Linked DNA regions of Homo sapiens: all the other regions are reported to be linked to region 1. The links are microRNA targets in miRTarBase. Many come from high-throughput screens and were not tested one by one. Region 1 holds a microRNA gene; each other region holds the end of a gene's coding sequence.

Region 1 (7,124 bases):
CAGAAGAGGAAAGCAGTTATCTGGCTGGGAATACCTTAGACAGAGGCTGTCCTCTACACAGGCTGTCAGAACTGACCTACTGACCTGCCTGCTGGCATGATAGACCAGAGGGAAACACTCTTTCCACTCTTCCCAGACTGAGTGTAAGAGACAGACTTTTTTTTTTTTTTTTGAGACGGAGTCTCACTCTGTCACCCAGGCTGGAGTGCAATGGCAAGATCTCGGCTCACTGCAACCTCCACCTCCCCGGGTTCAAACCATTCTCCTGCCTCAGCCTCCCAGGTAGCTGGGATTACAGGCTCCCGCCACCACGCCTGGCTAATTTTTGTATTTTTAGTAGAGACAGGGTTTCACCATGTTGGCCGGGCTGGTCTCGAACTCCCAACCTCAGGTGATCCGCCTACCTTGGCCTCCCAAAGGGTTGGGATTACAGGTGTAAGCCACTGCTCCCAGCCTTTTTTTTTTTTTTTATTAGAGACAAGGGCTCCCCATGTTGCCCAGGCTGATCTTGAACTCTAGGCTCAAGCGATCCTCCTGCCTGAGCCTCCCAAAGTGCTAGGATTACAGGCATGAGCACTGCTCCCAGCTCTGTTTTTGTTTTTTTAAGGAGGTATATTTTTTCTGTTCTCTCTCAGCCCTGAAGAAAGGCTACCCATCCCCTTCAGACATTCCTGAAAATATATGTCATCCAACATCAAGGCCACCACAGTGACCACTAAGCAATGCAAGAAGGTCCTCTGGGGTGCCCTGAGATCTTGGCAGGGCAGGAAGAGTGAGAAGGGGCTTTGCCTGCTCACCTGAAAGTTCCCACCCAAGCCGGGCCCAGAAAACAAAATGAATTATCTACATGGTCATCCAATCAGCCACCAAATGGCATTACCTAGGTCCATCATCATGTACCAAGCCACAGGTCAGACCCAGGGCCCCCCAAATTAACAAGACACAGGCACTGTCCTCAGGAAGTGGAGATCTAGCCAGGTCAGACCCACACACAAATAACACTGATACTAGAGATAATGAGATTGGGAATTATGATTCAGCCATTCAACCTGGGCTTATGTGGCATCTACACCACCTGGCCCTGATTTCAGTAGTGAGCACAGTTGACAGGGTCCCTTCCCTTCACAGGTGAGCCATGTAGTCCACAAGTGGAGGTGGTCGTAAGTGAAAACCACATTACCAGCATGGTAAAGGGTTAGAAAGAGGGCACCGGGTGGGCGAGAACATGAAGCAGGGGGTGCTGATGGCTAAAGAAGTAAAGGAGGGGCTGGGCACTGTGGTTCATGCCTATAATCCCAGCACTTTGGGAGACCAAGGCGGGTGGATCACCTGAGGTCAGGAGTTCTAGACCAGCCTGGGCAACGTGGTGAAACCCTGTCTCTACTAAAAATACAAAAATTAGCCAGGCATGGTGGTGCACGCCTGTAGTCCCAGCTACTTGGGAGGCTGGGGCATGAGAATTGCTTTAACCCGGAAGGTGGAGTTTGCAGTGAGCCGAGATCGTGTCACTGCACTCCAGCCTGGGCGACAGAGGGAGACTCTGTCTCAAAAAAAAAAAAAAGTCAAGGAGGGTTTCCCAGAGTGGCCACTTGATTAGAGACCTAGCACAGGAGGAAGAGATGGGCAGGGAGAGTGACGGGGAGCAGCACAGTCCCTGGGAGCCCGAAGTGGGTGGGCACAGGGCTCCCTAGGAGAATGGAAGGACATCTATGAGCTGTAGCCCAAGAGGAAGAGGTCACTGGGGCTAGATGCGGCAGACCCTCGCAGGCTTTGGGAAGGGCTTCAGAATTCAGCCTGAGGGCAATGGGGAGCCCTTTTGGGATATTAAACTTGAGTAAGATATGAGCATATTTGCATCTTGAAAAATCATTATGGGAAGATGGCTGGGAAGAGAGGAGGAGTGGCAGAAGAAAGATAGGTTGGAGACAATTGATTGCTCGATGATATAAAATGTTAAGTACCATGAATGATGCTGTTAGGCTGGAATGCGCCAAGCATAAAGGTGGGGCATGGCATCAAAAGGTAGGTCAACATATTAAATAATTCCATGTATTGAAATATCCAGAAAATATATAGACAGATCTATAGAGATAGAAACTGGTCTGCCCAGGACTAGGGGTTGTCTAAGGATAAGGAGCTTCTTTTTTGGATGGTGAAATAACCTAAAATATATTGTGCCATTGTTTGCACAACTTTGTGAATATATTAAAAACCTGTTAATTGTACTCACTAAATGTCCTCCTTCTAAATTAAGCTGTTCTTGACAAGAAAAGGAAAGAAACAAAGAAAAGAAGAGAAAAAAGGTCAAGGTTTGGTCCTGGGTGCTCAAATGGCAGGCCACAGACAGGAAACACAGTTGTGAGGAATTACAACAGCCTCCCGGCCAGAGCTGGAGAGGTGGAGCCCAGGTCCCCTCTAACACCCCTTCTCCTGGCCAGGTTGGAGTCCCGCCACAGGCCACCAGAGCGGAGCAGCGCAGCGCCCTGTCTCCCAGCCTGAGGTGCAGTGCTGCATCTCTGGTCAGTTGGGAGTCTGAGATGAAGCACTGTAGCTCAGGAAGAGAGAAGTTGTTCTGCAGCCATCAGCCTGGAAGTGGTAAGTGCTGGGGGGTTGTGGGGGGCCATAACAGGAAGGACAGAGTGTTTCCAGACTCCATACTATCAGCCACTTGTGATGCTGGGGAAGTTCCTCTACACAAGTTCCCCTGGTGCCACGATCTGCTTCACGAGTCTGGGCATGTCCTGACTCCTCTGTGTACCCCAGTGTGTCCATCTTAGCATGAGGCGTTAGCATTTCCCCAGCACCCTGCCTCTGCTTTCTCTTTCTGAGCCCATGGCAGACACAGCTAATCAGTAAAGGCATATATTCTTTTTTTTTTGAGACACAGTCTCACTCCATCACCCAGGCTGGAGTGCAGTGGCATAATCTCAGCTCACTGCAACCTCCTCCTCCCAGGGTCAAGCAATTCTCGTGCCTCAGCCTCCCAAGTAGCTGAGATTACAGGTGTGCGCCACCACACCTGGCTAATTTTTGTATTTTTAGTAGAGATGGGGTTTCACTATGTTGGCCAGGCTGGTCTCAAACTCCTGACTTCAGGTGATCTGCCCGCCTCGGCCTCCCAAAGTGCTGGGATTACAGGCATGAGCCTCCACGCCCCGCCAGGCATCCATTCTTGAAGTGCTCAGATGCAGCTTCAGAATCCTCAACAATGAGCCCTGGAAAGCCACTAGTACTGATTCACAGCTGAAACTCATTCATCATTTGTGGATCAAACAATTCCTAAAAACCCTTTCAGCCCTGAAGATAAAAATTCTGGCCTTTGAGTCAGGGTCTTCACTCTGTACTTCTAACCTTGGCTCCGGGGTATTGCCGAAACCAGTCCAGGCACGTCACAAATGTCTGACTTCTCCCAGAGGCTTCAGAAGCACAATGAGCAGCAGAGGAGAGCCATGGAGCCAAGCACAGTCTCATTTAACCTCCCCAAAAGCTTGGGAAGTGGGTGGTGTTATAGCCCCATTTTACAGATGAGAAAAACTGAGGCTTATTTAAGCAGCTCACCTAAAGTCACATATTGATTGTGCTGAGCTGAGATTGTACCCTAATCTGCCTTCAAATCCATGTTTTTACCCATTGCATGTGATTATGGAACCTGGGACCGAGGAGCAGGAGGAGAACATTCTAAATTCTGCTCCCATCTTGTCTTTACATCTCAGGTCACTTTTAGCAAAGACAGACCCGGACACTTGCCATTAATACTACAGGCTTCCTTCCTCCTACCCCCTTCCCCCAATCTTATTCATCTCACCTCTCCAGTAGGTCGTGGACTCATGCATTTTATAATTAAAGAAGGCCAAGGCTCAGGGGTTAAGTGACTTACTGGAGGTTATCAGAGAGGAAGTTGCCAAACCCAGGCTAGGAACTGAATGGTTGGTTTAAATCCACCCCTCTGGCAGGAGACTGGGGAATACACATGAGCCGTGCAGACAGCAGAGGGCAGTCCTGGGGGTGGGGGCGCCAGAGGGTTTCCGGTACTTTTCAGGGCAATTGAAGTTCCGGTCACTACTCCCCCCCAGAGCAATAAGCCACATCCGGCGACGTGTGGCACCCCACCCTGGCTGCTACAGATGGGGCTGGATGCAGAAGAGAACTCCAGCTGGTCCTTAGGGACACGGCGGCCTTGGCGCTGAAGGCCACTCGCTCCCACCTTGTCCTCACGGTCCAGTTTTCCCAGGAATCCCTTAGATGCTAAGATGGGGATTCCTGGAAATACTGTTCTTGAGGTCATGGTTTCACAGCTGGATTTGCCTCCTTCCCACCCCACAGTTGCCCCCCAATGGGGCCTCGGCTGGCTCACAGGATGAGGGTTCAAGAAGAAGGCTGTCCCTGGAGGTAAGAGGGCTTATGAACCATGTTCCAAACCTTTGCGTTGCTTTTCTTTCCATCGTGTCTATTTCATAACATCCCTGTGAGGCTGGATGTGGGAACTTCAGCACTGCCGTACTCTTGGGAAATTTGTCCAAGGCCACCCGGCTGAGCAGCGGTTGAACCAGGACACCATCAGGCATGCGTTTCTTGTCTCCACCACACCCTCAACCCACTTCCCAACGCGCCTTGCGACAGGGGCTGCGGTATTGCATCCACATGACTGATAAACTAGTAAACACACATGAATTCATTTTAAAAGTGTATTCAATCAGTTAGGTAAACTAAAAACCTTAAGTCTTCGTTCGATTTGGAATGCAGCCAGAGAACAAATGGAAAATTTTTCAAGGTAGAGAAGATGAAAACTCAGAACGCCCTCTTGTGGCATCTCTACCCACCCTAGGAACACTATGGCTCTTCCCCTACACATGGTGATTGCTAACCTTGCTACAAGACGTTGGACACACACACACACACACACACACACACACACACACTGAGGTTCCTTTTGCCCCCTCACTTTTGAGCCAGTGACTACTGAAACCCTCTCCATTGTTGCACCACCAGCAATGCCCCCATCACTTCCTCTCATTTACTTCCACAGGCTGGTTCATCCTCAAAGCCCTCCTTACGTAGATCTGTGGGATCAGTGAGGCTCAGAGAGGTAAAGTGGCCAGCCCAAGGTCGCCCAGACAGCAAAAGGCAGGGCCAGCGCTGATTTCAAGTCCAATGGCCTATGGCAATTTCTTAGCCAAAAGCAAAATCTACAAAAATAAAAAGTCAGGCACAGTGGTGAGTGCCTACAGTCCCAGCTACTGAGGAGGCCGACGGGGGAGGACCACTTGAGCTTGGGAGTTCCTGGCTGCAGAGAGCTATGATTGTGCCTGTGAATAGCCAATGCACTCCAGCCTGAGCAAGATAGGGAGACCCTGTCTCTAAAAAATACCTAAATAATTTTAAAAGTCAGCCTCTCTGACTGCCTATAGAGAATGCTAACTAACTGAATGACAGAAGACCTAATGTAATCCAGGTGCAAAATCAGAACTTTCCGGCCGGGCGCGGTGGCTCACACCTGTAATCCCAACACTTTGGGAGGCCCAGGCGGGTGGATCACGAGGTCAGGAGTTCAAGACCGGCCTGCCCAACATGGCAAAACCCCGTCTCTACTAAAAATACAAAAAATTAGCTGGGCATGGTGGTGGCCACCTATAATCTCAGCTACTCAGGAGGCTGAGGCAGGAGAATTGCTTGGACCCGGGAGGCAGAGGTTGCAGTGAGCTGAGATCGCGCCACTGCACTCCAGCGTGGGGGACAAAAGCGAAACTCTGTCTCAAAAAAAAAAAAATTAGAACTTTCCCCGTACTCTTGCTAGGGCTTTTCATGGAGATGTAGAAATGGTAGTAAGTGCCAAGGCCCCAGAACCCTCATGTTTGGGTCCGACTCCCACATTGCCAGAGACTAGGCAGCTCACACAGGTGTCCCAAGCTGTCTTTCTCACAGGCCGCATTGAAGGCATTTATGAAATGAGACCCCCTCTTCCTCATCCGTAGTGACAGGGCTGGCCTGACCGTGGAGAAATCAGATTTGATCATGATAGCTTCCACTCCGTGACTGGTCACGATCTGCCAGGCGCTGTGCTAAACACTTTCATAGGCCTTGTCCCCCTCCATCCTGATAACACCCCAGTGAAGCAGGCCCTGCTCTTCACTCCACTCCACAAAGCCAAGGCTGAGAGAGGTTAACAGACTTACCTAAGGTCACACAGCTAAGAAGTCGTGAAGCTGGGATCGAATCAAGTCTGTGTTTATGGGTTTAACTATCATGTTGTGGCCCCAACCCCATTTGACCTAGCCTGGCTGGTGGGCCTTCTTGCAGTAGCTTCCCCTGGAGAAGAGGAAAAGCAAACCTTCATTGAGACCCAAGCGGTCTCTCCTGTGCTCTGTGACAATAATAAAGTTCCAGCCCTTGGCTCCTGTCCTGTTTCTTTCTGGGAATTTGGGGAAGGGGGGAGGTGGCGAAGGCAGGGAAAGAACCTGACAGGCCCAGCTGAACACCCCCAAGTGGCTCCACACAGCCACTTTGGGAGGCCACATAGATAGCAGTCAGGACCCACATCCTGGCAGTTGGAGGCCCCAGGAAGCAGCCATGTCTGGGGATGCTTCCCTGGTATGGAGGGTTAGGGGATGGAGAGTGTCCCTTGAAGCTCAGTGAGGGCTTCTTGGGGCACTTGGGATCTAGCCATGTGGCAACCCCTCTCTGTCAGTCACAATGGTGTGACTGACCAGGTCAAATAAGAAAGAGTGTGAAATGTGAAGCCAGTTCACATCTCACACAGGTGTTTGGATTCACAGTGGCCTCTGGACATTAGCCAGGCCCTGCAGTAACACTGGACATTAGCTGTGCCATAGGCAGCGTGGCCAGCACATGAGGACACTTTTCACATGGTTATCTGCCTTGGCGTGATCCTCCAAACTGCCATATTTTGAGGGGAAAAAAAAACACCACCTGAAAAACCACTGTGTTAGTCCGTTTTCACACTGCTATAAAGAATACCACCTGAGACTGGGTAATTTATAAAGAAAGGAAGTTTAATTGACTCACAGTTCTGCATGGCTGGGGAGGCCTCAGGAAACTTGCAGTCATGGCAGAAGAGGAAGGGAAAGCAAGGCACGTCTTACATGGCAGCAGCGGGGAGAGAGAGC
Region 2 (7,124 bases), not on the chromosome of region 1:
TGCAAACACAGATACCTTTCATCTAGCAATGTCACTTCTAGGAATTTTCCCTTTGTATATACTCACACATTTGAGAAATTACTTATGTAAAATGATATCCATTTTGGTAATGCTTGTAATAGCAAGACTGGAAACAACCTAAATGTTCATCAGTAGAGGGCTATCTAAATAATGGCCAACTAAAGGAATTCCATGAGACCTAAAAGAGAATGATGAAGCTTACATATTTTAACATGAATTCATCTCCAGGGTATACTGTTATGTGAAGAAACAGCAAATTCAGGGGCCAGGTGTGGTGGCTCGCACCTGTAATCCCAGCGTGGGAACTGGGGTGGGAGGCCAAGGTGAATGGATCACTTGAGCCCAGGAGTTCCAGAACAGCCTGGGTAAGATGGCAAAACCGTGGCTCTACAAAAAGTACAAAAAATTAGCTGGGTGTTGTGGCGTGCACCTGTAGTCCCAGCTACTTGGTAGGCTGAGGTAGGAAGATTGCTTTAGCACAGGAGGTGGAGGTTGCAGTGAGCTGAGATCACACCACTGCACTCCAGCCTAGGTTGCAGATTGAGACCCTGTCTCAAAACAAAAACAGAAACAAAAAAAATTCATGGTACTGGTTCCTTGTGATAAGAACTGAGGAGCTGGGAGAAAGAGTGGGAAGGAGAATTCACCATTTACTCTTTTGTGAATGGTTCAAGTATTGAACCATGTGAATGTATTTCCTATACAAAAATTTAACTTAAAAAAAGAAGTCCCATTACTGATCACATTTTATTGAAACATGGAACTCTCCATTTGCAGCAAGAAAAGATTAATAATGAGGAGCTGAGAAGTAATAAAATGGCTCCATATACTCTGTTAAGTTTATGGAATGAATAACCAAAACAAAAGTTGAATTGTTTTTGTAATTTAAAGAATGTTCTGGGACTCAAAAATATACAGAATCTTCTATAATTAAACTACTCAGAACAAGAAAAATACCAAAAAGCATTAGGATATACAACTTAAAAATTTTAAATGACAAGTTTCATCTGACTCAAAACACTCTGAAAAACATATATGTAAATAAATCACAAGAATCAAACTTTTGATAAAGGCAAATTAAAGCAATGTAATAATCTAAAAAATAAAACCAAAGCCTGATATTTTAAAAAAACATTTGGCCACATACATGAGTGCAACTAGCAGCTCTAGAAAAGAATACTGACTAGTTCATGCAATGAAATTCCTGACCTTGGTCTCTAACTCCTGGGGGTTTTAGTTCTGAAATATCTCAAATCTGTATTTTTCTGCCAGTGCTCCAGTTAAAGCTGTTTCTTCTAGGCTATTTCAGTAAGCTGACTGACCATGACTTCATCCCCTCACCCTTCCCATTGCCGCTGGAATTTATGGCATAAATCTAACGGTCTCACTACCTTGCAAAATGCTTTCATTAGTTACCCATTGCCTAAATAGTAAAGTTCAAATGTTTTTGTGTGGCTATCTTCTTTTTTTGCTCCCCTTCCCCCAAAATACCTTCTCCCCTAAATGTGGAAATTGCTTATTTTATCTTTTTTGGCCATTGGTCTTGGGTGGACACCTGGATCTTGCCAGGCCAATTAACAGTCTATGCTGGAAATTTCAACTTGAGACTGAGAGTTCATTTCTCTTTGAATGACTGCAGCATCCAAAAGTTCAGAAGTACTCAGTGGCCATGTTTTCTGCTAATTAAACTTAAAAAATGGAAAAATCTAGTTATAAAAGAAAGAGAAAATGCAGATGTGCAGAGAAGCTGGACCCAGAGTTAGGAAACTGTGTGCTCAATCCCAGCTCTTCTTTTAGTCCAGTCACATCCTTGTCTTCAAGTCCAGTGAGACAAGTCAGACTCCTTACATTAAAATCCCCCTTATAGGCTGGTTCAGACTGAGTTTCAGATACTGCACCCAAGCCAGTCCTAATCCCACTGCTTATGGCAACTTGGCAGTTTAACCAAAATCTACCTTGCTAGCTTCATTTCCGTGTTCTGACCACATCTCCATTCTATCACATACTCACACTGACCTAGCAGTCATTCCCCCCAAATTCAACTCCACTCTTGAGCCCTGCAGTGCATTCACCTGGGATGACTTTCTTCCCTCTCCTTTACATGGAGAATGCCTCACATTTACCCTGAGATGCTGCATAAATGCTTCCACTCATTGTGAAGCTTTTTGATTATCTACTGCTCCCATATCCAAGTCAAAAGACCACTCCATATTCTGTGCTCATTGTCCTTTGTATATGCTTCTTTGATTACACTGATCACAGTATATTGTAGAATTCCTATTTGTTCATATACTATTTTGTAAGTTCTTCAAGGACAGTGTCTATGTAGCTCCACTAACACAAATAGAGAACACATGACCCATACTTGATAAATGTTTGATAAATCAGGTTATTCCAACAAACCAAGTGCATTCGCCCTTGCCACACAGGCTGTAGCAAACGTGCTCCCAAAATACATGACGAACTTCTTAATATCTGATTAAGAAAGCAGTCCTTCATGAATAATGTCAATTTTGTGTTTGAACACAAGGGTAACTTATACGTAAAATAAACTGACCAGGGGAAGCAGAATCAACATCAGAGGCCCCCACATCCCTAATCCTATGGTGTCTAAATCAGTAACTGCAATCTTATACCTGAGACGTAGTTCGTTCTCTTTTCTCATACTTTCTATAGTTATTCATTCTGTTAAATGCTTTTACGTCTAAATACACATCAACTCCTCTTGCACCATTTGCTTTTTGCACTGAACTATTCTAAAACAAGCTGGATTACTAAAACACACAAATACAAAAGCTGTGTTATCAGCTAATTTTAATACTTTGTTGAGTTTTTTTCCTGAAGTGTTCTTTGACCTCAAATGTATACAAGAAAATAATTGTCCAATGGGTTGGGGGCTTTTTGTTGTTTTCAAAAGTGTATCATATATATAATATTATCTGGAAACCAGGAGGAAAAAAAGATTGTTTTATTTTATACTCTACCCAGTAACCAAACAAAGAAAATAAAACACAATTTCTTTGTGGCTAAGCTGGTTTATTGAACTTCATGGGGGAAATGTAACAGTGACACTATTCCACAACAAAATTACTTAGATTTCATGAGGAAACATGTATTTGCAATATACTTTCAATAATGCATTGTTATTAATAGCGAACTACATTAGATTCTGGGGTAGTTTCCTTTGGTGTTCTCAAATTAAGACTTTTCCAAAACATGTCTGATATTTTAATTATTTATTTTCAATTAAAGGTCATAGTTAAAATAAATTCTACAGATTTTTTAAATGTGTGATTTGTTCTTTAAAAATTAGTAATTAGTTGTTAGATAGCTATCATTTTGGAAGTGATTTTGCAACAGTGAAATGTTTTATAAATATTTTAAGATATTGAAAGCTTTAACCCCATTCAACTGGTATGTTTTTTAAAAATAAAAACATATATATAAAAAATTAAAACAAATTGTTACAAATGAGATACAAATATTTTAAAACTAATAAATATTACAGTTAAAAAATAAGTCCTTTCACAGAACTGTAAAGGATATTACTTAATTCCTTACAAAAAGAAATAAAGTTACTCTTTTTAAAACCATAATAATAGTAATAAAAAACCATAAATGTGCTTGGAAAGTCTATAAACTTTCTTCCCCCACTTTAGAAAATATTTTGAAAAGCGATAAACAGATTCCCTTCTTTAAAAAAATGTTGTTACACCCATCATAGTTACTACAGCTGTCATTGTTTTATTACAAAAATAGTTATAAATCAAGGTTAATTTCGATACAAGTAAAACAATTTTTAAATTCCAGCATGATTAAGAAAACATGATCTCCCTAAATGCAAATAAAGCCAATTTGAGCTCTAATACTTAAAATGGAATAATCACTTCCTATAATTATTATTTTCAGTTAGTTCATTTAATAGAATTACTTTGTCTTTATAGTTAAATTATCCAGGTAGGACCACCATGATGATTAAACAAAAATCTTAAACTAGATTAGATTACATTTTTAATTGATTTCCCATATTCTGAAAATACTGTAGTACAATAATCATTTGGCTTAATTTCCTCCAAAATTATTAAGGACAGCAATCTATCAAAATTAGTGAATGTGAACACTTCAGTTAAAGTCATGGCTTACATTCCATTTACGTAAATAGTTTAATATGTAAGCTTGCTATATTTTATGTGCAAAGACTTAAATTCAAAATAAAAGTATTTAGGTTAAAAAACTTCTTGAAATATTCTTTCCATCACTGAAGTTTAGACATTTTTCAATATCTAATTTATTTTTCATACTGAGGAGGGATAACTTGTGACCATAAAATTTAGACATCTTAAAAATTGATATGACACAATACTATTACAGAAATACATGTAGACTAATAGCAATTAGAGTTGTGCCTTCACACCTACAATCCAAATGGAAGTTGATTTGTTAACTTGGCATTTAGTCATTAAATTTATTGGAGTTGAAGGAAGAGCAAGAGATACCATATGGGATACACTGCTTGAAATTAGTAAAGGCTAAGAATAGGTCTCCTGTGTTAGCTAGAAGCTATGTTTACCTATTTTCCCCCAAGTTACAACTCTTCATGTGCTTTCAGTTAGTTTTTCACTGTTTAAATATACCAAAATAAAATATAAAGCACCTTATGTCACTTTATTTGCCTTAAAATCTGACTTATTTTTGCATATTTTAATAGGATTTAGTAAGAAAGCAACTCGGCTGGGTGCAGTGACTCACACCTGTAATCCCAGCACTTTGGGAAGCTGAGGCGGGTGGATCATGAGGTCAAGAGATCGAGACCATCCTGGCCAACATGGTGAAACCCCATCTATACTAAAAATACAAAAATCAGCTGGGTGTGGTAGTGCACGCCTGTAATCCCAGCTACTCGGGAGGCTGAGGCAGGAGAATCACTTGAACCTGGGAGGCGGAGGTTGCAGTGAGCCGAGATGACGCCACTGCACTCCAGCCTGGAGACAGAGCGAGACTCCATCTCAAAAAAAAAAAAAAAAAAAAAGAAAGAAAGAAACTCAAATAACTCTTTTAAAATAATAATGATTTTTGTAGATCTGATAAGTATTAATTAGAAAATCAAACATCTAGAACTCTTGGAAAAGTCATTCTTTATGGACTGGGAACCAGAAAACATTCTATGCCTTCTTATCCCACTGGAACTAAAGTCTTGGCTCTAAAACATACCAATAATAACAAAACTAAATATGTTAATAAAACAAAGAAAGGCCAGATGCAGTGGTGAGTACCTACAGTCCCAGTACTGGGGAGGCTGAGGTGGGAGGATTGCTTGAGCCCAGGAGCTCAAGGCCAGCCTGGACAACATAGCAAGACCCCGTCTCTATGAAAAAACAAAAAAAGTACTCTGGGGAGAGGCAAATACCAGTTTTTATCCTATTAAGAACACTTCCCATTCAAAGGACATACTATTAGGTGTGTCCTAAACCTTTAACATTTTTTTCCAATCCTAGGACAAAAGATTGAATGGTTACTGATTCCATCATGTTCTCATTTGAAGCTTCCTTCATTGGGCTCTAGATGGAGAGATGTTCAGATTCATCCTATCTTTGCTTCATTTTCAATCTCACCTGAAAACCAACTTTTCCTGTGTTGTCACAGTGACAAACTTAAGTAGATACAAAATACAAAAGCGTGACAATGACAAACAGCAAAGTGTCAAGATGACCCATTATAGTTGAGATTAAATCTTATGACTTAATACTGTCATACTTCAAAAGTATTTCTTTAGTCAAAATTAGATAATATAATAAAGACTGTTATTTAGCACCAGCACGTCATTGCAGGCTTTGGTTCAGGCTTCAGGATAATTCCATTATCAGGGGGCTGACTAAGCATTAATGGTTTGTGGCTCTTAAGCTTATGAGCCAAGGTCATAAATATAGCTTCCACATGGTCATTATCATTGGGGTTTTTAGCAGACGTTTCAAACAAAGGCATACTGTGTGTGTCAGCAAATTTTTGTGCCAAGTCTGTGGGTACCTGTATGGCACTTCTCAAGTCACATTTATTTCCAACAAGAATCCGTGGTATATCATTGGCTAGCAAATGTTGTTTGCATTCTTCTATCCAAGATGGTAGGCTATGAAAACTAGCCATGTTGGTCATATCATACACGAAGACAACAGCATGTACATTTCTGTAGTAGTGCTGAACCATGCTCTTTCTGAATCGTTCTTGTCCTGCTGTGTCCCATAGCTGGATCTAAAAATGGGAAGAAAAAGAGGAAAACTGAAAATCCCATTCCAATTATACATATCAAGAAATGTAATCATCTTGCATTGTCTTTATTATCTCTTCACTTAAAATATTTTGATTTCTCCCTTCCATAATGTCTTTTCAGTGTTACCTATGGGATCCAGACTTCATGATACCAGTTACCTCACAATTAAATTATAATACAAGTGTCGGAACTAATATTTCAATACAGGATTTTCTAAATTTCAGTAAATCCAATTTGTTTAAATAAAATTTACCTCAAAACTTTATTTTAAAATGTTAAGAGAAAAATATATCAGGTGTTAACATGTTAAGCATTTAATTCCTGTAAATTTGGTTACTATACACCCCTCTTTACCTTTCACTAGTCTAATTTAAAATATTAAACCTAGGAAAGATGTTGTTATGAGATCCAGCCTCCAAACAAACATATACATGTATGTGTATGTCTATGAAATCCAGGACCCCTTGAAAACTTAAGAAGGCTAGAAAAAAATCATGAATAAAAATGCTCAACATAGAATTAAAATGCTTAAAACTATAGATGTCAAAACTTACTACAAAGCTACAGTAATCAAGACTGTGTGAAACTGGCCTAAGATCAGATACAGAAATCAATGGAACAGAACTGTGGATCCAGAAGTGAACCCATATATCTATGGTCAACTGATTTTTAACAAGATTACCAAGAAAATTCAACAGCAGGAAAGATTAGTCATTTCAATAAATAGTGCTGGACAACATGCAAAAAATGAGGCTGGATCCCTATCTCACACCATATATAAAAACTTACTCAAAATGGATCAAAGACCTAAATTTAAGAGCTAAAACTTTAACTCTTC
Region 3 (7,124 bases), not on the chromosome of region 1:
GGGAGTTGGAGGGGATGAAGATTAATCTCTATTGCTCTAGATATTAATATAACTTTTAAAAAACATTGGTTATAATGTTTTAAAAAAAATGAGGCATTGGAATTACATACAAATTTCACTCAACCCATGTGGATTTCCCTGCGTAGAAATTGTACTGTGGCTGAAGTTTTAATCCTTGCTAAGTGGGGTAGTGCATGGATTACATCCCCATGCCTGAGATGGTGGAGCCCCCATTTTCAGGAATTATCTGAATTCCTGGATTTATGAATGTTAATCTGGATCAGCATTTTTTTTTTTTTATTTTTTTTTGGAGACGGAGTCTTGCTCTGTCCCCCAGACTGGAGTGCAGTGGTGTGATCTCGGCTCGCTGCAATCTCCGTCCACCACAATCTCCGCCCCCCGGGTTCAAGCGATTCTCCTGACTCAGCCTCCCAAGTAGCTGGGACTCTAGGCATACGCCACCATGCCCGGCTAATTTTTGTATTTTTAGTAGAGACGGGGTCTCACTGATGATCCACCCGCCTCGGCCTCCCAAAGTGCTAGGATTACAGGCGTGAGCCACTGCGCCCAGCCTGGGTCTGCTTTTTATTGGTTCGCTGCAACATGGAAAAAAACCAGAGACAGTGTAGTGAATTATTTTTAGTAAATGTGAATTTATATAACTTACAATATAGTCTTATATTCCTGCATCATGTACTTCCTACTTGGTTGATGTTAAAAATCCTTTTTTTGTAAAAATGTAATTTTAAAATGTCCTTGGCAAAATATAAAGTTTGTCGATTCTAATTTGGACATCTAATTTTTGGGGGAAGTTTTACCAAATAGTGAAATCTCAAAGTCTGAAAATCACTAAATTTAAAATCAGTGAAATTGATATTGAACCCAATTTGAAGGCTTGATGCATTAAAATTTAATACTTAATAATATCAACCAAGTTCTTTTCAGATCATTAAAAGTGAAATCACAAGTTTTCAGTTTCTTCTAAACTACTGAAGAATTTAAATATGCATGAGGTGGGAAAAATAGGAATAAAGGAGCAGATATATTTTCTTGACCTACTATATTCTCTGTATCAGTGTCATCTCCAGCATCCTTTTTGAGAAACTATTTGGAGATAAAGAAAAATTAAGATTCTTACTAAGCTGCAAGTGAAAATCACTAATATGCCCTTGATTTTACAATAACTGATGCATATAAGTCATTCCCATTTTTGTTTCTTAGTAATTTTAAAGTTAATTTTCTCAATTAAGCTAAGTATAAAGGAGTGTTAAGGTGAAATTGTAAAATATTCATTGTTGCATAATCTCATTAAACCTCAGCTGTTTACATTGTATTCTGTTTCTTCCTCAGTGAGAAAAAGAAAGAAAAGGAGCGTGAAGAATTGTGGAAAAAATTGGAGGATCTGGAGTTAAAGAGAGGTCTTAGACGTGATGGAATAATTCCAACTTAACAAAAACAATGACAACAACATTACTAACCTGTGGAGTCACACGTTTATGTAGTAGAAGATGGAGCAACAGTTTTCTGTATTGTGCAACTTTACAGTAGATTTCACCTTTGTTTCATTATTACAGCAGCACTGTATATACCTGTCTCTAAGTAAAGGAAAAAACAAAATAAGGACTTCAATCCAAAGTTTGGACAGTAGATGGACTTCTCAGAACTTTGCAAACATAATCATTGTTCTCACCCTCTTTTAAAAAAAAAAATCGGTCTTCAAAGATCTGTTGATGAAATTGCTATGTTAAAATTCCATTATCGGGAGTTCCTTATTTATCACTAGCAGAGAGTATGATACAATTTTCAAATGTGAACAATCTTAAATTTAGCTTGTCTTTCTGCTAAGCTGTTAAATGTATTTATAGTAAAGGAAGAAAAAAAGACTGTCATTTCCTTATAAGTTTGTGTAACATCCTCCTCTGGATAACTTGACTGTAATTTAACATCTTTTTCTTTTGCACATCTTCCTGAGTTGAATGTCCACGTGGAATGGGGTCATGAATTATAAAAGTCCCTGATAAAAGTTTTGTTTACTGGGGTGAACATCTTTCCAGTAACCAGGTAGTCCTGGTACTCCTTTAGTTTTAAAATTAGGAGTTAAGAGAGAAGAGGTGATAAACATAGTAGGGAAGGGAATATCGGATTCATGCATCAGTTTATGGTGAATCCAAATCAATGTCTTGAATCCTTTGAAAACAGGCACTGGGACATCACAGGCTTCAGTACCTGACCAGTATTAGTTGCATATATCATTGAACACACATACCAGAGATGTTTTAGAAATGTGAGAAAAACATCCTTTTGGACCATTTGAAATAAGAAAGACAAACACTAAACAATACAACCATGAAATTGATCACCGGGATTGCAAATCTAATTGGGAAAAGAGTTGAGCAAACAGCTTGGACTGTTTGGAGTTGTTGCCTTACTTTTTAATATGTATTTATAAAGTATTCCAGCAAAAGAGGATGTAGCCTCTGGGAAAAAACAAACATGTTACAGTGTTTTTTGTAGATTCTCGTTCTATATCTCATCACAGCGCCAGCCCTGTTTTTAGCCGGAAAGGATTCAGGATAAACATTATTATGCATTCTGAATTGGATGCATATTCCTAACTACTGTATTTGTTACCAAAAGTGGTTCTACAAATGCTACTGAAAAAAATCTGGAAATTCCTAATGTCCTGAGTATTAATAATAAAGTTTAAAAATGCTTTTATATCAAAGGTGCATCGTGACCAAATTGTTTAAGAAAAAAAAACAAAAAAAACAAAATCTAGGGCTGTATTTTATATATATATATATATATATATATATATATATATCTTATTGGCTCTCTGCTTTGTATTTAAATGAAGAATCTTACATCTTGGGTAGGTAAACTGCTGATAAAATTTGTGTACAGTATGTACTTACCTAATGCAGTTGCATTATTACGTACTGAAAGATATGTGTTTGGAGGTTTATTTCCAGGATGCATTTGCTTGTTTTGGTCATGGCAGCAGTGAGTTGGTAATCCTAAACCATCACTTCCAGCAGTATTCATGGTATAGAGCTGATCTGTGTTCATATGTTGAATTGTGATAGTAGCAAACATGAACATATGAACTATTGTTGCTCTTAATAGAAATACAATATAAATATGGGCTTGTATATTTTCTTCCTTACATTTAAATATAAAGTAGAATACGCAGTTTTATTATTTTCAAGAAAAAGAAAGAGAAGCTGCTGACCTTTCTCCCCCATAAAGTTTTTCAGGATGATCAGGTCACAGTGTGTACGTAAGAGTCAGCTAATTATGGATATTGTCATCTCGGTAACTTTGTAAAAAAACAAACAAAACTGGCATTGTTAATTCCAAAAAGAAAAAAAAAAGCAGTAAAAAAAAAAAGTCATATGCAACACCAGACGCAACATGGTTTAATGGAATTAATAGTTTTTTTTTTTTTTTTTTTAAAGAACATTGATGGGGATTCACTGTAAAGTTGGCAGAGGCTGCCAAAGACGAAACAACTGACTTTAAAAATGCTGGAACAATGTGATAAAAAATAAATTTGTAACAAATCTTCTCCTTTTTAGCCCTTGTCATTTTAGCCCTTTAGTTTCAACTCTGCATTATATTTAGTTTATATAGTGTAAACTTTTGTTTGCCATTAATTCATCTTTTTAGGTAGAAGACATTAAAATCACAGGTTTATGAAGAATCTCTGCTCATTGGAATGAAATGCAGTCATTTGAAATGAGAAAGGCCAGGATCCTTTTTTGTACCTTACCCTGTCTTCAAGAGTAAAGGTGAACACTTACAGCTCTCCTCCTTGATGTCAATTTTGTATGTTGATCATTCCAAACTGAGAAGAATAAAGCCACATTTTAGACATATTTATAGAATCAATTAAAGCTATATGTCTAAAATTCGTAGGGCAACTTCTGAGAAGAAACACCGTCTTTTTCTTTTTTAATGGAAAGTGACAATGTGACATTAGTCATGTTGTGTGCGGTGACGCAGAGTAACTGAGGTAATCTGACTGTTGCACTATGTGACATATTTCAGGACGTACTTGCTGCATTTGCAGCAGCCCTCTCTCTCTGTCCCTTCCCACAATTCTGCTGTTGCTGCAACTTGAGTTAATTGTGACAAATGCATCTTTGTGTTATATTTTGTTTGCTTCATAATTTCCAGAACTATATATAAATATATTTTTTAAATAGCAAATATTGTAGTTAGTGAGTGATGATCACTCCAACCTTATCCTTACCATATTGGTTTCAGGGATAGGATTAAGAGTGTCTTTGGAAGAGAAAAATACACACAACCCTGTGGTTTAGAATGACGCTGAGGCCTTAGGCTGTGGGCCTAGAACAACTATGTGAGTGAATTCACCCATCTCATACTTTGAATCAAGCATGCATTCCTGTTTCTCATTGTGAAGTATCCCCAGTTGTTTTCCTTCAGTGTTGAGTTTTTGTCCTTTTAAATTTTATTATATTTTGCTCTCCCTAACATTTGACTGTTTTTTATAAAAGAAAAGAAAAAAAAAGAAATAAATAATACCCTCGATGCCACTGGATACTCACAAGCAGGGTTATGCTCCTTCATCTTGGGCTTGTTTGCCTAAATGAAAGGGTTTAATTTATTTTGTACCTCCTATGCGTGGGATAGTCCAGGGTGCAGAGCCAGGACTTGCTTGTAATTGCACCTGCTATACTTAAATGTATAGCCCTAGGCTCAATCACACTATGGAAAGAAACAAAAAAAGTATATTTAGAGCTTTAAAAGCTTTTTTATTTTTTTGTGGGGATGAGGGTGGGATGGGAAAGGGATGTATGGATGTTATTGGCATTTTTAAGTGTTTAGAGTTTTTTGGGGTTTGGGGTGGTTTTTTTTCCTTGTTTTCCTTTTTTCCTTTTAATTGGATGCACTGACCTGGCCCAGGAAATGAAGAGATTCTCTTTTGATGCTATTACCAATGTTATCATAAAGTGACAGTCACCTGTAACAAAAAGGTGGCACCAGACATGATCACTGATGTTTTATTTGCACATCAATATTTTTATTTTTGTATTCTGGCTCAGCTGCTTCTCTGAGTGGAGTTAAGGAATGAGCCACAAAGATTTTTGTAGTAGGTATATTGGCATTGCATTTTATATTCCTCTATATTTAATTTTGAAAACCTAAAAGAAGGATTGTGCATCTTGAGAGAAAGTTGAGCAAATTGTGATCTAGCGGAATGTTAATTTGTGCTGCTTCTTGTGCACGATAGCAGCAGTAGTATCTCTCTTGGAAATAAACATCCCATATTATGATGTCTATGAATATAGGTTTCCTTTTCTTCCTTCCCTCCCTCCTTCCCCCACCTTTCTCTTTTTTTTTTCTCTCTCAGCTTCTCTTTTCCTCCTTCCCTCTTCCCTTCCTCTTTCTTTACTTTTTTTGAAATCACTTATTGTAAATAAGTTGTAATCCAAACCTCATGTATCAATGGGGAATTTTCAAATATAAATATTACCAATGCATTTTCTGGTTGTTGTCTGATTTTTGATTGAAGTATAATGAGAATGACATGTCTGTTGCTTTTGGTTTGAGGACTTCGCTTTAGCTTCATAAATCTTTTGGTATTTTAGTATTTCATTGTTTTAGCAGGAGAGGGCAGCAAAAGTTCATTTTCCCTGTTAGTAATGCTGTGGTTCATGATCGGTTTTAAATTTAGCTGTGTGTGTGTTTTTTTAAACAGCATCTCTTTGTGAGTAGAGGTAAAAATGAAACATTTTTGATATGAAAAGTTGCATATGAAAATTATAGACTGGTTCAACCAGACAGTGAAGACTTCTGATCCACATCAAACTTAAAATGCCACAAAACAATCTTCCACCTCTGGCTAAAACATGCTACTTCCTTTTCAAACACCACAAAATACAAGCTGAGTCTTAAACACTTGGAATTTAAAATGTTTTTCTTTGGAAATGATTTGCTTTCTTCAAAGTGGTAACAGAAACAAAAATGAAGGTGCTCCCCAAAAAGAAATGTAACCTTCCCCTTTCACAGATGTGTGAGAGGTTCTGTACTGTGGGTGCATCATAATAAAGAAGCAGTGAAGAGTTTTCAGGTGCCTGGCTGTTTTTGTTTGTTTGTTTCTGAACTCCGTGGCCTTTTGAACCATACAAATATTAGATTTGATTAACTTAGCTTTGAGGCAGTGGGGTTGGTATGTTCAGGCTTTCATTTTGAGAAGTCAGTTTATGATTATGAGTATGTAATATTGGGAAATGGTCCAGTATCGGTTGCTGTATAACATACTACTCCAAAAGTAGAGGCTTAGAAAAACAACAATTTATTCTCATCACAAATCTATAGTTTGGGAAGGACTTGGCAAGAACATCGTGTCTCTGATCCTCGAGTGTCAACCAGGGTGTCACAGGTGGGGCAGGAAACTTCACTTTCAACATGGCTCACTTACATGGTTGACAAGTTAGTGCTGACATTTGGCTTGGAGTTAAACCAGGGGTCTCAGTTCTTCCTCACAGTACTTTCTTCTTGGGCTTCCTCACAGCATGGCAGCTGGGTTCTAGGAGGCAGGAAGTGGAAACTGCCTCTTCTTTGAGGCCTGGGCCCAGAAACTATCATGGCATCACCTCCATCATATTCTATTGGTCAGGCGGTCACAGAACCTGCTCAGATTCAAGTGGAGGGGGCATAGTCCTCACTGTGAATCAATGAGAAGTATTTTCAGTGATTTGCAGTTATCTTTAAGCTACCATGGGATAGTTTTTTTTTTTTTTTGTAAAGTATTTGATTTAGGTGTGATCTACGCCCTTAGCTAATTAAATTACATCAAATTGGAACCATGTGGAATTAACCAATTAATATTTCATATTAAAATTAATCTGGGTTTGGAAGGGAAAAGCCCTTGTATATGTCAGCAATTTTGTATTTCAAAGCATAACCACTTGTAGCACCTGAAGATCAACCTCTTGGTAAGTTAGAAATAAGAAACTTGTAACAGAAAATTTTAGGGTTCAAGAGACTTAAGAGATGATTTTAAGAAAATATTTAATTCTTTGCATAATGTTGCTTCCTGTCTATAAGTAAATATTTACAAGAATGGATGCAAAGTAAATGTACACTAAAGA
Region 4 (7,124 bases), not on the chromosome of region 1:
CCTTCTTAAGGCTGAATAATACTCCACATGTTGTTTATCCATTCATCCACTGATCCATTGATAAACATCTGTGTTGCTTACTCTTCTTGGCTATTTTGAACTGAGCTGCTATGAATATGAATGTGCAAATATCCCTCGTTGAGACCCTTCTTTTTTTTTTTTTTAATTTTACTTTAAGTGAGACCCTTCTTTTTTTTTTTTTTTTTTTTATTTTACTTTAAGTGAGACCCTTCTTTCAATCCTTTTGGGTATATACCCAGAAATGAGATTTCTGGATCATATGGTAGGTCTATTTTTAATTTTTTTGAGGAACTATCATGGTTTTCCACAGTGATAACACCATTTTACAACCCCACCAACGGTGCACAAGGGTTTCAATTATTCTACATCCTCACAAACACTTGTTATTTTCTGCTTTTGTTTTCCTTTAACATAGCCATACGTATGGGTATGAAGTGATATCTTGTAGTCATTTTGATTTGCATTTCTAGAAAATGCTATTTTATGAAGCACATTCACACTTTCAAGGCAATATCACAAACAATATTTATACATCATAGCACCGATTAAATAAGGAAAACAAACTAGACAATAATTTTTTAAACTTGGATAATTAGAACAATAAAAGAAATGGAAGTTAGATTATTTGTGAGCTCACTGAAGACTACAGCCAAGAACTTTAATCTCAAGAAAGAATTGGAAAGCCCTTCAAAATCCTAAGAAATGCTATTATGTGGTCTAAACTGACTTTGATGACGGATCTTGCCACTGACAAGTAGTGTGGGAGAAGCTGGAAGATGAGATACTAGAAAAAAATGTCCTCCTTATTAATCAGGAAAAATTAGAATCAAGTAAATATTTTAAAGAAAAGAGAAATGAGTAAGATCTGTGGATTTTTTAAAATAGGTAATTTTTCAAAAAGAAAATTAGATAGAATTACACATTTGTAAGACCCATAAAATATTGGTCATGTAACTTTGGAAAATGGAGGAAGAAAATAAACACACCTGTAATACACTTCTTTTAGATGTCAATGGGATTCCCAAGTGGAGCTGCCCTATAGAGGAGAAACCAGAAACAGGTGCCAATATTAAAGGTCAAAGCTGGAGTAAGAAACATAAGTCATCTATGTATCAAAACCAAATCCTCGTTTTAAAAAGGATTAGTACCCTCAGTACAATTATAAAGCACTAAACTTTGGCTCAAATACAGAATGGTCTTTGGGTGAAAACATAATCCATTCTGAGCCAATTAGAATACATACCTCAGTAAGCAATAGGATTGGATATCCACTTCCTCAACCTTTCCCTTTTAAAGTTTACAAAACTGACCATTTTGTGAACGTCTGCTCTAACGACCCAGATAAACACCAGCCAAGCTTTCAGAAGGAGGCATCTCTAAGCCAGAGGAGCTTAGAGATCTCTAAGCTTGCTGGGTTTTTCTACAGAAAAGTGAGAAAGTAAGAAGGAACCATCTCCTACCATATCCAGTTATTAAAATTAAAATGACCTTTTGTCTCTTTCTGTACAAAAAAGACTGCTGTATTCTTCCACAATTCAAATTGGGAGGAATACGGTAGTAAGGATTTAATTCACTACTTTATAGCTTACTAGCTCCATGATCCATTACACCCCAAACAAGGAAACATGTGGGTGGGGAGGGTGGCTAGAACCATCAATAAATTTAAAAGAGATTCTAGTGGAAATAAAATTAAAGCTACAGTCAAGAAACCAGATGTGAGTCTTGCTATTAATTACAATACACTACTTAAGGATTTCACCTAAGTGCCTTTTCCCCTTCACTTCTGATGGGCTTCATTACATTCTATCCCAAAATATGGCGCCTTGGCATTTGAGAAAACTGCAGAAGCAGGAAGGTATCTCTGACTTTCCTCTCAGCCTTCACCCCTGAAGTAGGCCATAACAGAATTATCTGACCTTCCTCCCTGCAGTCGGTCATAAGACCCCCCCTTCCAGAGGTATCCTGCCTGTATCTGAATTATAGGAACATCCTTATCCTCAAAGACACAGGGACACCAAGAAGAATTGAACTGACAGGCCTTGTTAAGTTTCCCCCAGCGTATTGCTATTAGATCACACCGTGTTGTCCTCCAATCATATTTTTCCACAACTATGCACTTCATTATCAAACCTAGTATTAAAAAATGCACTAGTTGTCCAGGCACAGTGGCTCATGCCTGTAATCCCAGCAATTTGGGAGGCCAAAGCGGGAGGATCACTTGAGGTCAGGAGTTCAAGACCAGCCTGGCCAACATGGTGAAACCCCATCTCTACTAAAAATACAAAAATTAGCTGGGCGTGGTGGCGCACACCTGTAATCCCAGTTACTCAGGAGGCTGAGGTGGAAGAATCGCTTCAGCCCGAGAGGTGGAGGTTACAGTGAGCCAAGATTATACCACCACACTCCAGCCTGGGTAACAGAGCGAGACTCTGTCTCAAAAAAAAAAAAAACACAAATTTACCTGTTTCTTTGGGCCTTCATTTTTGAAGGCTCCCATATTGCATAAAACTTATATTAAATATATTTGTATGCTATTTTCACTTCTTAATCCATCTTTTGTTACAGGAGTCTCAGCCATGAACCTAGCAACAGACGAGCAAAAAAAATCTTTTCCCCCCTACACTTCCAACATACAAAAAATAGGTTTAATAAAAAGCTTTTAGAACCAGAACATTTTTCTTCTAAGAATATTTTATTCTTTCATTCATATTACTTTAATATTCATACATGTATTCTGCCATGTAAATAACCTTTCCAAATTATGTATCAGTCTATTTGCATCATGTCAAATTTTCAAATCTCCATATTTTCACAAGATATATATTCTCCTTTGGAATCTTTCTGCACATTTATATGAATAAATTAAATAGTATCTCTACAAACATATTCAAGTAATTATTTGTTTTGGGTTATTATGTAACATGAAATAATTATATATCAATGCAGTATTTTTTTCATATGTGACAGTGAAACAAGGTTTTTAAACAAAAAACTGATTTTATTAAAATAAAATTTACATAAATTATGAACAGTCTATTTGTATGAAAGCCCCTCTTCAGATATATTTTCCACTTGGCCATATGTAACACATACCTTAGCATGACATAAAATTCCAAAATCATTCAAGTAGTAGAGCTAATAAATTTGAATTGTATTTTTAGTGTTAAAAAGAAAAAAATGTAACTATTTAAGATTCAACGAAGGTGATTTCTCATTTTCCTACTCTTTTCATCTCTCTCTCTTTTTTTTTTTTTTTTTTTTTTTTTGAGATGGAGTCTCACTCTGTTGCCCAGGCTGGAGTGCAATGGTGGGATCTCAGCTTACTGCAACCTCTGCTTCCTGGGTTCAAGCAATTCTCCTGCCTCAGCCTCCTGAGTAGCTGGGATTACGGGTGCCCACCACGCCCGGCTAATTTTTTGCATTTTTAATAGAGACAGGGTTTCACTATGTTGTTTAGGCTGGTCTCGAACTCCTGACCTCATGATTCACCCATCTCGGCCTCCCAAAGTGCTGGGATTATAGGCGTGAGTCACCGCGCCCGGCCCTCTTGTCTTCTCTTAGCCTACTTCTCAGAGTTTGTTTCTAAGTGGAAGCAGTCCTCCACCAAAGCACTACCATGTGGTTTTAGAATGCTCTGCCTGTTTTACACCTGTTGAGAATAAAATGTTTGGACTTATGAGTAAGCCCACCAAGACAAAATATTGGGATGTCAATAATAACCTTTTTAAAAATGGCTGGTTCTTCAGACAGAGAAAATAAAAATCACCATACATTTCTACCCCAGATTAACTTCCAAAAAAACAAATAACTAGCTAGACCTGTTCAGGAGTATGGTAGCCACATGTGTGTGGGGTCCCCTAGTTTTCCTCATTTTTGTCTCTGTCCTGACCAAGTAACACATGGTGCCTTGACCCAGCCAGCTGATGTTTTCCTCTGCAGGTCTGAACCCCAGCCTGGGCCTTGAACATTCCTAGGCACTGATAACGGTGCTTAGGTTGTTGCTGGAAACACTGAAAGATCAGCCGTGTTGCTAAACATGTAGAAGCCAGCCCAGCCCCCACCCAAATTCCTTACATCTTCATGTGAACTCCATCCCCCAACCCCCTCGCTGGGGACATGCCCAGGTAGAACATCCCTTGTCTCACTGCCCATCACAAGGACGCTGCAGCCCATGCTGTATGTAAGCTCCCCTCATAAATGCTTTGGACTGATCACCCTGCCATTTAGTGCTTCTTCCTTTAGAATCGCAACTGGCCCCACCTTGGAACGGTTTGGAGCACTCTCTCATGGGAATTTTCCATCAGGTCAAACCCAAGGCTGGAGTTAAATGTGGCTATTTAAATTTAATTGAATTGAAAGATGGGTTCTTCAATCACATCAGTCATTGTTCAAGTGCTCAAGAATCACATGTGTCTGGTTTACCACGTTGGACAACGCAAATACAGAACATTTCCGTCACTGCAGAAAGCTCCACTGGATGGTACTGGGCAAGACCACAGAGGAGATGATTCATATAAAAATATGCCACTATATGCATATTTTCCTTCTTAGTCACAAAAGCTGCTTGTTTTTGTTTTTTTTTTTTTAGTTATAACAATAATAATATTGTTATTGCTGTTTGTTTTGCTTTTGAGACAGGGTCTCACTCTGTCACCCAGGCTGGAGGGCAGTGTCACAATCACAGCACACTGCAGCCTCGACCTCCTGGGCTCAAGTGATTTTCCCACCTCAGCCTCCTGAGTAGCTGGGACCACAGGCACATGCCACCACACCTGGCTAATTTTTTGAATTTTTTTGTGGAGATGGGGTTTCGTCATGATGTCCAAGCTGTTCTCAAAATCCTGTTCTCAAATTCCTGGGCTCAAACAACCTGCTTGCCTCAGCCTCCCATAGTGCTGGGATTATAGGTGTGAGCCACCGTGCCCGGCCAAAGTTATTTGTTTAAGCTTATTTATCTTCAACACCATCAGCCACAACCTGTTTATTTTAGCCCAAGACAGTGGTATAAAAATAAGAGATTGTGTCTAATTTCTCCAAATCATGTGATGTGACATAAGAGCCCAAAGTCTTGTAATGAATCCCACCTCTCCCAAATTCAAACAGCCCATGGGCTCCCTCTGGACTGAAGCATCTTTGCTATGGGCAGAGTTGTCCTGTGGTACCCACAAGGAAGCCTTGCTAGGAACTCCTTATCAGTGTGGACTGGTCATCTCCATTACCCTACATGGCCATCTTGGAGGAAGGGACCCTGAGGGCGTTGCCTTTGCTCTTTACTGAGGTGTGTCCCAGGACCCCCAGGGTGACCACTCAGGACTGGATGGCCATCCATGAAGGCCACTGAAGACTTCCCATGAACAGCCAGGCCCACACTTCCTCAACTAGATCTACCCACGCACCATCTGAGCATCTCATGCCCAAAGCATGGGCAGATATTCCAGCCTTTGTTTCTTCAAGGCCTAGATTGTACCTACAAGTCTCTCCTGGGAGTCTACACTTGCCAAAATATAACTTAAAACATATGGAAATAGCAGTTTATATAAACTCAAGGAAGATTATTCTCAGTAAAAGAAACTCTTTCAAAATAACAAAACACTCTCATCTGATTAGTCCAATATAAATGCTCTTTTCACAATCCCTTTATCTTTTTCTTTTCTTTTTTTTTTTTTTTGAGACAGAGTCTGGCTCTGTCACCCAGGCTGGAGTGCAGTCGCATGATCTCGGCTCACTGCAACTCCACCTCCCAGGTTCAAGCGATTCTCCTGCCTCAGCCTCCTGAGTAGCTAGGATTACAGGCAACTGCCACCATGCCCAGCTAATTTTTTGTATTTTTAGTAGAGATGGGGTTTCGCCATGCTGGCCAAACCAGCCTCGAACTCCGGACCTCAGGTGATCCACCCACTTCGGCCTCCCAAAGTGCTGGGATTACAGGTGTGAGCCACCACACCCGGCCCCTTTATCTTTTGATTCCTGAAAACAATGCACTTAACTTCAGTATTTGGTCTTTTAGTTATAATTCTTAAAAATAAGACATTTTAAAACATATTAAATGTGCATTATTTGGAAAAAAGTATATGCAAATGAACCTGGAAATATCAATATACAAACCAATTTTTCAATTCTCCAGTCCATGGAGGGAGATACTCATGTATTTGACATTTGAAAACCATTTTTTTTAGCAACTATGATAGTGGTTTCTAGACTTTGTCCTTAAGCACAAGCCATTCTTCCTATATGACATGATCATAACAAAGATTTATATATAGCTCCAGAGAATAGTGAGATTTGCAGTCTTCTGATGGATATCAAAGTTGAAGGCTAAAAGACACTTTGGTGGTATAGCTGGGAACAGATTCTGTAACAGAAAGAAAAAAGTATGCTCAATCATTCACCATTTTATTATGAAATCTAGCTACGTGCTATGACATACATAATGAATGTATGTCAATACACCCATTATTGTCACTTCATGTTTTAAGTATAGAGATACTGTATAGGTGATAAATAATGCATTTGTCACCATTAAGTAAGTCATCACAAATGTGCAGTCAAACTTTAGAAATGTTTAGATCTAAGAATCGTTAACTTTCATTCTTTTGCCATCTTTCCAGCCAACTCACAGCTACATCAAGATCTTGGAAGCTATATGACCCTACAGTATTAATAGTTGACAAAATAGAAATAGATGGTCACGGACTTGGGACTGTGGCTAGTAGGTGGCAGAGGGTACCGTTTATAAGAGAAGTTTGGGCTGTTCCTAAACCATACACCATCTTTGAAAGTAAACCTTCTCTCAGCCTGGCTCTTCCCACTAGTTGCTGACCCCTCTTCTCTCTCCCTTCACAGCCAAAGTTTTGTCAAAGGATGGTCTATACCAATGGCTCTCAAAGTGTACTTCTCAGACACAAGGCATCAACATCACCAGCGAGCTGGTCAGAAGTGTACTTTCTCAGGCCCTGCCCCAGGCCTGATGAGTAAAAACTCTCATTCCTATGTTCACTAAAGCTTGAGGACCAGTGAGGGCTTCACATCCTTATCCTTCTTGAATCACACAAAGTTGTAGGCCCTTGTGGGCAGATTAAATCTACTATTTTTTCACTCAGACA

What was found. Region 1 holds the annotated microRNA hsa-miR-143-3p (UGAGAUGAAGCACUGUAGCUC, at 2,534-2,554, shown strand). A microRNA usually pairs through its seed, bases 2 to 8, with sites in the 3' UTR of a target mRNA and lowers its output. Matches are read on the target gene's strand: a 7mer-m8 pairs with bases 2 to 8, a 7mer-A1 pairs with bases 2 to 7 and ends in A, and an 8mer does both.
Region 2: the mRNA of RAB33B is a reported target of hsa-miR-143-3p. Seed matches in the 3' UTR shown: 7mer-m8 at 4,980-4,986.
Region 3: miRTarBase lists PPP2R5E as a target of hsa-miR-143-3p. Seed matches in the 3' UTR shown: 7mer-m8 at 3,308-3,314 and 7mer-A1 at 4,382-4,388.
Region 4: miRTarBase lists LRRC2 as a target of hsa-miR-143-3p. Seed matches in the 3' UTR shown: 7mer-m8 at 4,523-4,529 and 7mer-A1 at 3,287-3,293.

The regions. Positions count from the first base shown.
Region 1 is chr5:149,426,445-149,433,568 of GRCh38, forward strand. MIR143 (microRNA 143) reads left to right here and starts at 2,474; the gene lies at 2,474-2,579. CARMN (cardiac mesoderm enhancer-associated non-coding RNA) reads left to right here. Exons shown (of 5, transcript NR_105060.1): 4 at 2,439-2,595; 5 at 6,274-6,392. It overlaps MIR145 (microRNA 145), which reads left to right and starts at 4,202; the gene lies at 4,202-4,289. RefSeq lists enhancers at 4,542-4,836, 6,853-7,124.
Region 2 is chr4:139,471,829-139,478,952 of GRCh38, reverse strand. RAB33B (RAB33B, member RAS oncogene family) reads right to left here. Exons shown (of 2, transcript NM_031296.3): 2 at 2,344-6,267. The coding sequence ends at 5,827. Among named protein-coding and RNA genes, the nearest start is that of RAB33B, 21 kb to the right of the region's middle.
Region 3 is chr14:63,370,335-63,377,458 of GRCh38, reverse strand. It overlaps PPP2R5E (protein phosphatase 2 regulatory subunit B'epsilon), which reads left to right. Exons shown (of 14, transcript NM_006246.5): 14 at 1,351-6,095. The coding sequence ends at 1,450. Among named protein-coding and RNA genes, the nearest start is that of GPHB5, 55 kb to the right of the region's middle.
Region 4 is chr3:46,512,691-46,519,814 of GRCh38, forward strand. It overlaps LRRC2 (leucine rich repeat containing 2), which reads right to left. Exons shown (of 9, transcript NM_024512.5): 9 at 2,695-6,373. The coding sequence ends at 6,324. Among named protein-coding and RNA genes, the nearest start is that of RTP3, 18 kb to the left of the region's middle. RefSeq lists a silencer at 4,309-4,603.